Homo sapiens: one gene and its partner. The protein of the gene in region 2 interacts with the protein of the main gene of each other region in a pairwise test. Each region holds a gene or a part of one and is shown on either strand. Other genes may lie near its edges.

What was found.
Region 1: the proteins of NSG2 (region 2) and SUPT4H1 interact in a two-hybrid assay, tested with the Homo sapiens proteins (one large-scale study listed by BioGRID and IntAct).

The regions. Positions count from the first base shown.
Region 1 is NC_000017.11:58,346,679-58,349,452, forward strand, and holds part of SUPT4H1 (transcription elongation factor SPT4), read right to left. Parts: intron 907-2,774; coding exon 851-906; intron 564-850; coding exon 510-563; intron 1-509. UniProt on the Homo sapiens protein: Component of the DRB sensitivity-inducing factor complex (DSIF complex), which regulates mRNA processing and transcription elongation by RNA polymerase II.
Region 2 is NC_000005.10:174,097,706-174,101,205, reverse strand, and holds part of NSG2 (neuronal vesicle trafficking-associated protein 2), read right to left. Parts: intron 1-3,500.

The DNA of each region.
Region 1 (2,774 bases), on a different chromosome or scaffold from region 2:
TGCCACTATACTTCAGCCTGGGTGACAGAGACTCTGTCTCAAAAAAAAAAAAAAAAAAAAAGGTCCTGCTTAGTTGACTCATTACTAGTGAAGACCCAGGCAGGTATTCGGTAAGAATGAGAAGAAAAAGAGGGATACATGTAGTCATCAAAAGCAAAGGTTCTAAGCCAAGCACCTGTAGTCCCAGCTACTCAGGAGGCAGAGGTGGGAGGAGCACATGAGCCCAGGAGTTAGAGTCCAGCCTGGGCAACATAGTGAGACCTTGTCTCTAAAAAAAATAAAAAACAGAAACAGCAAAAATTCTGGAGCCAGAATGCCTGGATTCCAATCCTGGCTCCTCATTTACTACCTGGTGACCTCCAGCAAGTGATTTAACCTCTCTGTGCCTGGTTCCCCCCATCTGTAAAATGCTGAACCTCATAGAATGTGAGAATTGGCATTAATTCAGATAAAAAAACTTCCACAGAGCTTTACAGTAAATGAACATTGGCTGTTATGATTATTATTACCTTGGGGCAGGCGACCAGTGACTGACACCGCATATACACCTGGCTTAAAGTTACCTGAGAGAGAAGAAAAAAGATACAAGATTACAGTGAAGTTAGTTAAGACTCAAGATCAAATGGAAGCTTAAGCTAAAGAAGTGATGCAACTCCAAGAGAAGAGCTATTCCCTCTTTTGGCTACAAGTGTTAAATGACAAGGCACAGGACACTGCTTCCCTGTGTTTCCTACAACCCGATCTTTCCCACCCTGAGGTCACTCATCTTGCTGATTTGAGACTCCCTAATGGACCTGAGGAACAGTAACAACACTACAACTAAGCCAAAAGGAGACAGGCCAACACTTACTGACTCGCTGCCACTTGGAGACCCAGCTGTCCTCTGGACTCATCATCGCAATGATTCTAGGGAGGGAAAAGAAATGGAGAGTCAGCCTGAGCCTCCCTGGGCCTGAGCTCAATTCTGAGAGAGGAATCTAGGAAAAAGCCAAGTACCGAGTCTCCACTGGAAAGCTGGCAAAACTGCCTTCTGATGTTGGGATGAGGCTGACTCAAAGCTAGGACTGACAAAAGTTCTTCATTCTTATGTCCTTGGCCGGCCAGCCACAGGTCAGTTTCCATCCCCAAAAGATTATCTCACTCAGCTCACAAACATCCTTAGCCTAACATTCCCTAGAAAATGAGACGGCTTTAGGACAAGGGGTCCAATAGTTACAACTAACACAACTACAAGGGGTCTAGGGCCTAGTGCAAAGAGGAGGGTGAGTGAAAACAACGGATCCTCCTACTAGAAAGGAGTTCAACTTGGCTAAACTTTTCCTCTTAATGACCTATACATATGGGGACCCCTCTAATGACCTATACATGTGGGGTTCCCTTCTCAGAACCTCATCAGTAAGCTGAGACTCAAAGGTTGAGATAATACATGAAAAACACCTAGCACAAAGACTAGCACAGAGTAGGTGCTAAATAAGCATTAGCTCTCCTCATTATCCTAATAGTCCTTCCCAGGTAGCTGTGATTCCAGAGGAATGGTAAGGCTATTCAAGGGCTAGAAGATGCTGCTTGAGCAAGATGGGTAAGCATTTTTGTCATTCAACGCATTCAATCAAATGCTTACTGACTGCCTATTGTGTGGGTGTAAGCACTGACATTTGTTGACTGCCTCAATATGCCTCCCCTCTTCTCTCAGTAACAATCTTGGATTCTTATTTGAGAAGATTCCCTTCCCATCCAAATCCTACATTCTCAGCCATGCGCTGTTAAGTGGAACCGACCCTACCTCCAGGGGTGACAAGCAGAACACTAGCCCCCAGCCCTGCAGCCTGATGGGAGATAGGCATGTATGCAGGCCATCCTCCTGACCACAAGTATATTCTTCTCTGTCCTTTGCAATCTATCTTTTTAGCCTTAGGGTCCCTACAGCCCAACCTTATGATTTAACCTAAACAGAATTCCCACTGTTCTCCAAAAACATCCTGGTTTTTCCCATCCTAAGCCTTTGCTCTAGTCACTCCCTTTATTTGGAATGTTCTCTCTCTCTCTCACCTCAACTTCCTCAAAAATCCCAAACTTCTTGCCTTAAGAGGAAAGTACTACCTCTTCCAATTCTGGTTGAGGTCATCTAGCCCTCTTCCGATCTTTAATTTGCCCACTCTTTAAGACCTAATATGCACTAGAATTATACAAATAATTCCTACAACCTAACAACAAAAAAACCAAACTGAAGTCAAAAATGAGCAAAGGCCTTGAATAGGCATTTCTCCAAAGATATACAAATGGCTATAAGCACCTAAGAGGCTCAACATCACCATTCATTGGGGGAAATGGGACACCAAAGTCACACCCATCAGGATGGCTATTATTAATAAATAATTAAGTGTTGGTGAGGATGGGGAGAAATTAGAACCTTTGGGCACTGTTGGTGGGAATGGAAAATGGTGCAGTTGCTAAACAGTATGACAGTTCCTCAAAAAATTAAACACTGAACTATCATATGATCTAGCAATTTCACTTGTGGATATACAGATGATCCCTGACTTACCTTAGTTCAACTTATGATTTTTCAAATTTATGATTTTGCAAAAGTGACATGCATTCAATAGAAATCGTTTTCAAATTTTAAATTTTGTTCTTTTCCAGGCTAGCAATTCAGTACAATATTCTGTCATGATGCTGCGCAGCAGCCATGAGCCACAGCTTCTGGTCAGCCACAGTAACATAAGCGTTCTGAGCACATTTGAAGTAGGCTAACTTATTATATTCAGTAGGTT
Region 2 (3,500 bases):
ACCCTTTCTGTTAAAGGGATATTAAAATCCTGCTGGCATCCCCTCCCCTCAAAGAGAACACACCTGGGCCCAGCCAAGAGAGTTGCCTATAGTCGCAGGCTCATCCACAGACTACAGTGCAGCTGTCGAGCTCGTGCATGCTCAGGAGGGAGTTCAGAGCCTCAGCCCCAGCCTGCCATTGCCTCCAGCCTGATGCAGGGTCTGAGGGAGCTGCTGGAAAGCTTCCCATCCCAATGACCATGTGCAACCCCAAACCTTGCCTAGGCAGAGTCCCAGGCCTCTTGAGAGACTCAGGAGCTGGGCAAGACCTCCCAACATGGGTATGGACGTGCCCAGACAGGGCTGGATAAGGCCCCTGGCCAACAGCAGGTTAGTAAAGGGGCACTAGGAGCTGGTGCAGGACCCAGCAAGCCTGCCTGTGGGACAGGTTCCCTTTACAGGGTGAGCTCTTCCACTGCTAACGTCCCCTGAGTTAAGAAATCCCAAATAGGAACTGCAGGGGCTGATTCACCAAAGCACCACCAGGGCTAGAGAGCACGAGCACAGAGCAGGCCTCCAGCAAATGCTTCTGGAAAAAGAAAAGGGAGGGAGGGAGGTACGTTGGAGGTAGTGGTTTCAAACCCTGCTTCACATTAGAAGCAGCTGAGGAGCTCGGAAATGCTGATGCCTAGGTTGTCACCACCCCCATGGATTCTAATTCCATGGGTCCAGGACAAGGCTGTCCAGGTAATTACCGTGTGTAACCAGGAAGAGAAGCGCTGCTCTAGTAGGACTAGCTGTGAGTGGTTCTCAAGCAGCTGCACATGTTAGAATCCCCTGGGATTCAAACGTTTCAAATGATCCTGGAGCTCTAGCCCTATCTCAAACCAACTACACCAGAATCTCTGGGGGTGCAGTCCAGGCCTCAGCATGTTTCGAAGCCCCCACGTGGTTCCCCACATGCAAGCAGTCCTGTGTGCTGACACTTGCTGGGGTGTCCTCCGTGACTGTCAGAGTCAAGGGTCTAATGCTGACTGGTTGCTACGGGTGCAGCCCAGCCCATGGGATTCTGCCCAAGCAGGGCTAACTTCTGCCAGGCCACCCCACATGCTCCATGACCCCAGAATTAGGCTCAATGGAGGCTGTCTTAGCTGAAGGAGAGTTTGCCTCCCTGTCCTGAATTTTGGTAACTTCTGCAACTGAAGGCCAATCATTCCCTAAGAGTCTGGGGAGGTCAGAGAGTACGTTGTGGTGAATCAGGCACAGGCTCTTTCTTGAGACCTCACAGTCTACAGGGGGAGGAAGAGATGGACTGATGGGTGTAGACACTTGCAACGCAGAGGTGACACCATGACTGAGGCCATCAGCACAGGGGGCTGCTGGACCTAATCAACCTGGGGGCGGGGGCATCAGGGACGTCCTCCTGGGGGATGTGACATCATAAGTGACTTCATGGAAGAACATTAGGATGAGGGGAAGAAGGCTCTGAGCAGAGGAAATGGCATCAGCCCTGGAAAGAACGTGGAGAGCACACAGGCTGTTCTAGAGGCATCACAGGCCTTGGCATGGCTGGCCCAAGGGGTGTGAGTGATGGGGAAGCCTGGGGGCCTGGGCAGGGGGCAAAGAACAGATTACACTTGGACTTGATCTCAAGGACAACAGGGAGCCAGTGACAGTTCTAAGCAGGGAAGCGACAAGGTGAGAATTATGTTTTGGAGTGATGTCTCTGGGGGCAACAGGAGGCATGTTTGCAGGGGGATGGCTGAAGGCAAGGGGGCCAGTGGGAAGGCTGATGTAGTAGGGCGTGTCCCAGGTGCTGAGGCCAGACGGGGCAGTGGGGTGGAGTCAATGGCCTAAGATGGCATAAGAGGTGAGCACAGCACTGCGAGACAAGAGGAGGAAGGGCCGGCTCAGGCCGGCGAGTTCCACTGGTGAGCTTTCTGGATTCTGGATGATGCAGTTGTCAATGGTTGCTGGGGTGGGGCGGGAGCTGGAGAGTCCTGGTTTGGTTCCAGGGCGAGATTTCCTACAGGCAGGTTTCAGTTCTGCGAGGCATCCTGCTGGACCCAGCCTCCCCGGCCTCCCTTTCTGGTGGATTTGTGAAATTCAGGGGCCTACGTGCCTGATCCCTGCAACAAAGCTCCCGCCATGCCGGGTGAGCCTAAGAGGGTCGGGGAGAGAAACTCCCACCTCCCCACAAAGCACCTCTGAACATGAAAGCCGGACTCCACATCAATATTTATTGACTCGGTTTATATAACCTCCATCCTCAGAGACGTTCTAAAGCCCTTGGTTTCACTTCTTGAATTTAACAACCTGAGCCTCGCGATAAACAGCTCGCTAGTTCTCCAGCGCTACATTGGAGGGTTTCATTACAGGCACAGTCCTCACCACGGAATCACCCTCTCTGCACCCGTCTCCCCTCATCCACTCACTCAGCCACTCATCGTCCGCTCACTGAGAGTCTACTAAAGGGCCTACTGTGAGCCGGATGCTGTGCACAGCCATTGCCTCAAGGAGTTCACAGGAGGGAGAGAGTGAGACATTCAATGAGCAATTCACCAAAGAAATAACCACAAACCAAGCACTGAATGTGGTCTGAACAGAGCACACGAGGGGGGCCCTTTGACGGGGTGGTCCTGGAAGCGAGAGGGGACTGGGCTCCAGGCAACCCCGGGCCAGAGCATTGCAGCATTCTAGGACGCCCAGAGATCCTACAAGGAAGAGGAGCTCGAGGTTCCAGAGGGCCTGGAAGAAGCAGTCTGGCTGTGACGAAGGGGACAAGGAGAGAACGCTGAGGTGAGGCTGGAAGGAAAGCAGGGTCCAGCCCCCTAGGGCTTTGGAGGCCAATATCACCCTTGTCCTGCCCAAGACAGTAGCTCCCCACAGAGGCAGCCCTGGTGCTGTCGGGGTAACATCTTTGCTCAGCCTGCACCCCCTCAACCACCCTCCAGTCTCATGTACCTCTCCCCACTGGTTCACACTGTCCCCTCCAGCCCCAGCACCCTGACAGCTCCTGCAGTTGCTTCTCTGGGCCTTGGGCCAGGCCTGGAGCCCCTGTGTGCCTTTCCTCAGCAAGGAGAACATCTCCTCAGCATTCAGCTCCAGCCCTGAACCCCTAATCCATCCCTGCTGTGTAGCTGGGGCCTGCTCCAGTTCCTCCTCCATAGGAGCACACTGCATCCCCATCACCCCTCTCGCCTACCAGCCACCTTCTGCTGGGAAGGCCTCGGGCAGCAAGCGAGTCGCACCCTTTTCTCTGTGCCCAGTAGTGACTCATACAAAGTGGGGATCAGAAACATTTCCTGACCTGCAGTGTTGAGTTGAATTAAGACCAGAGAGACAGACACACAGACACTCATACACACACACACACACACACAGACACACACAAAGAGACACACTCACACACACAGTTACACACACACACAGAGACACACACACTGAGAGAAAGGTACACACACAGAGACACAGACACACACACAGACACAGAGACACACACAGAGACAAACACACACAAA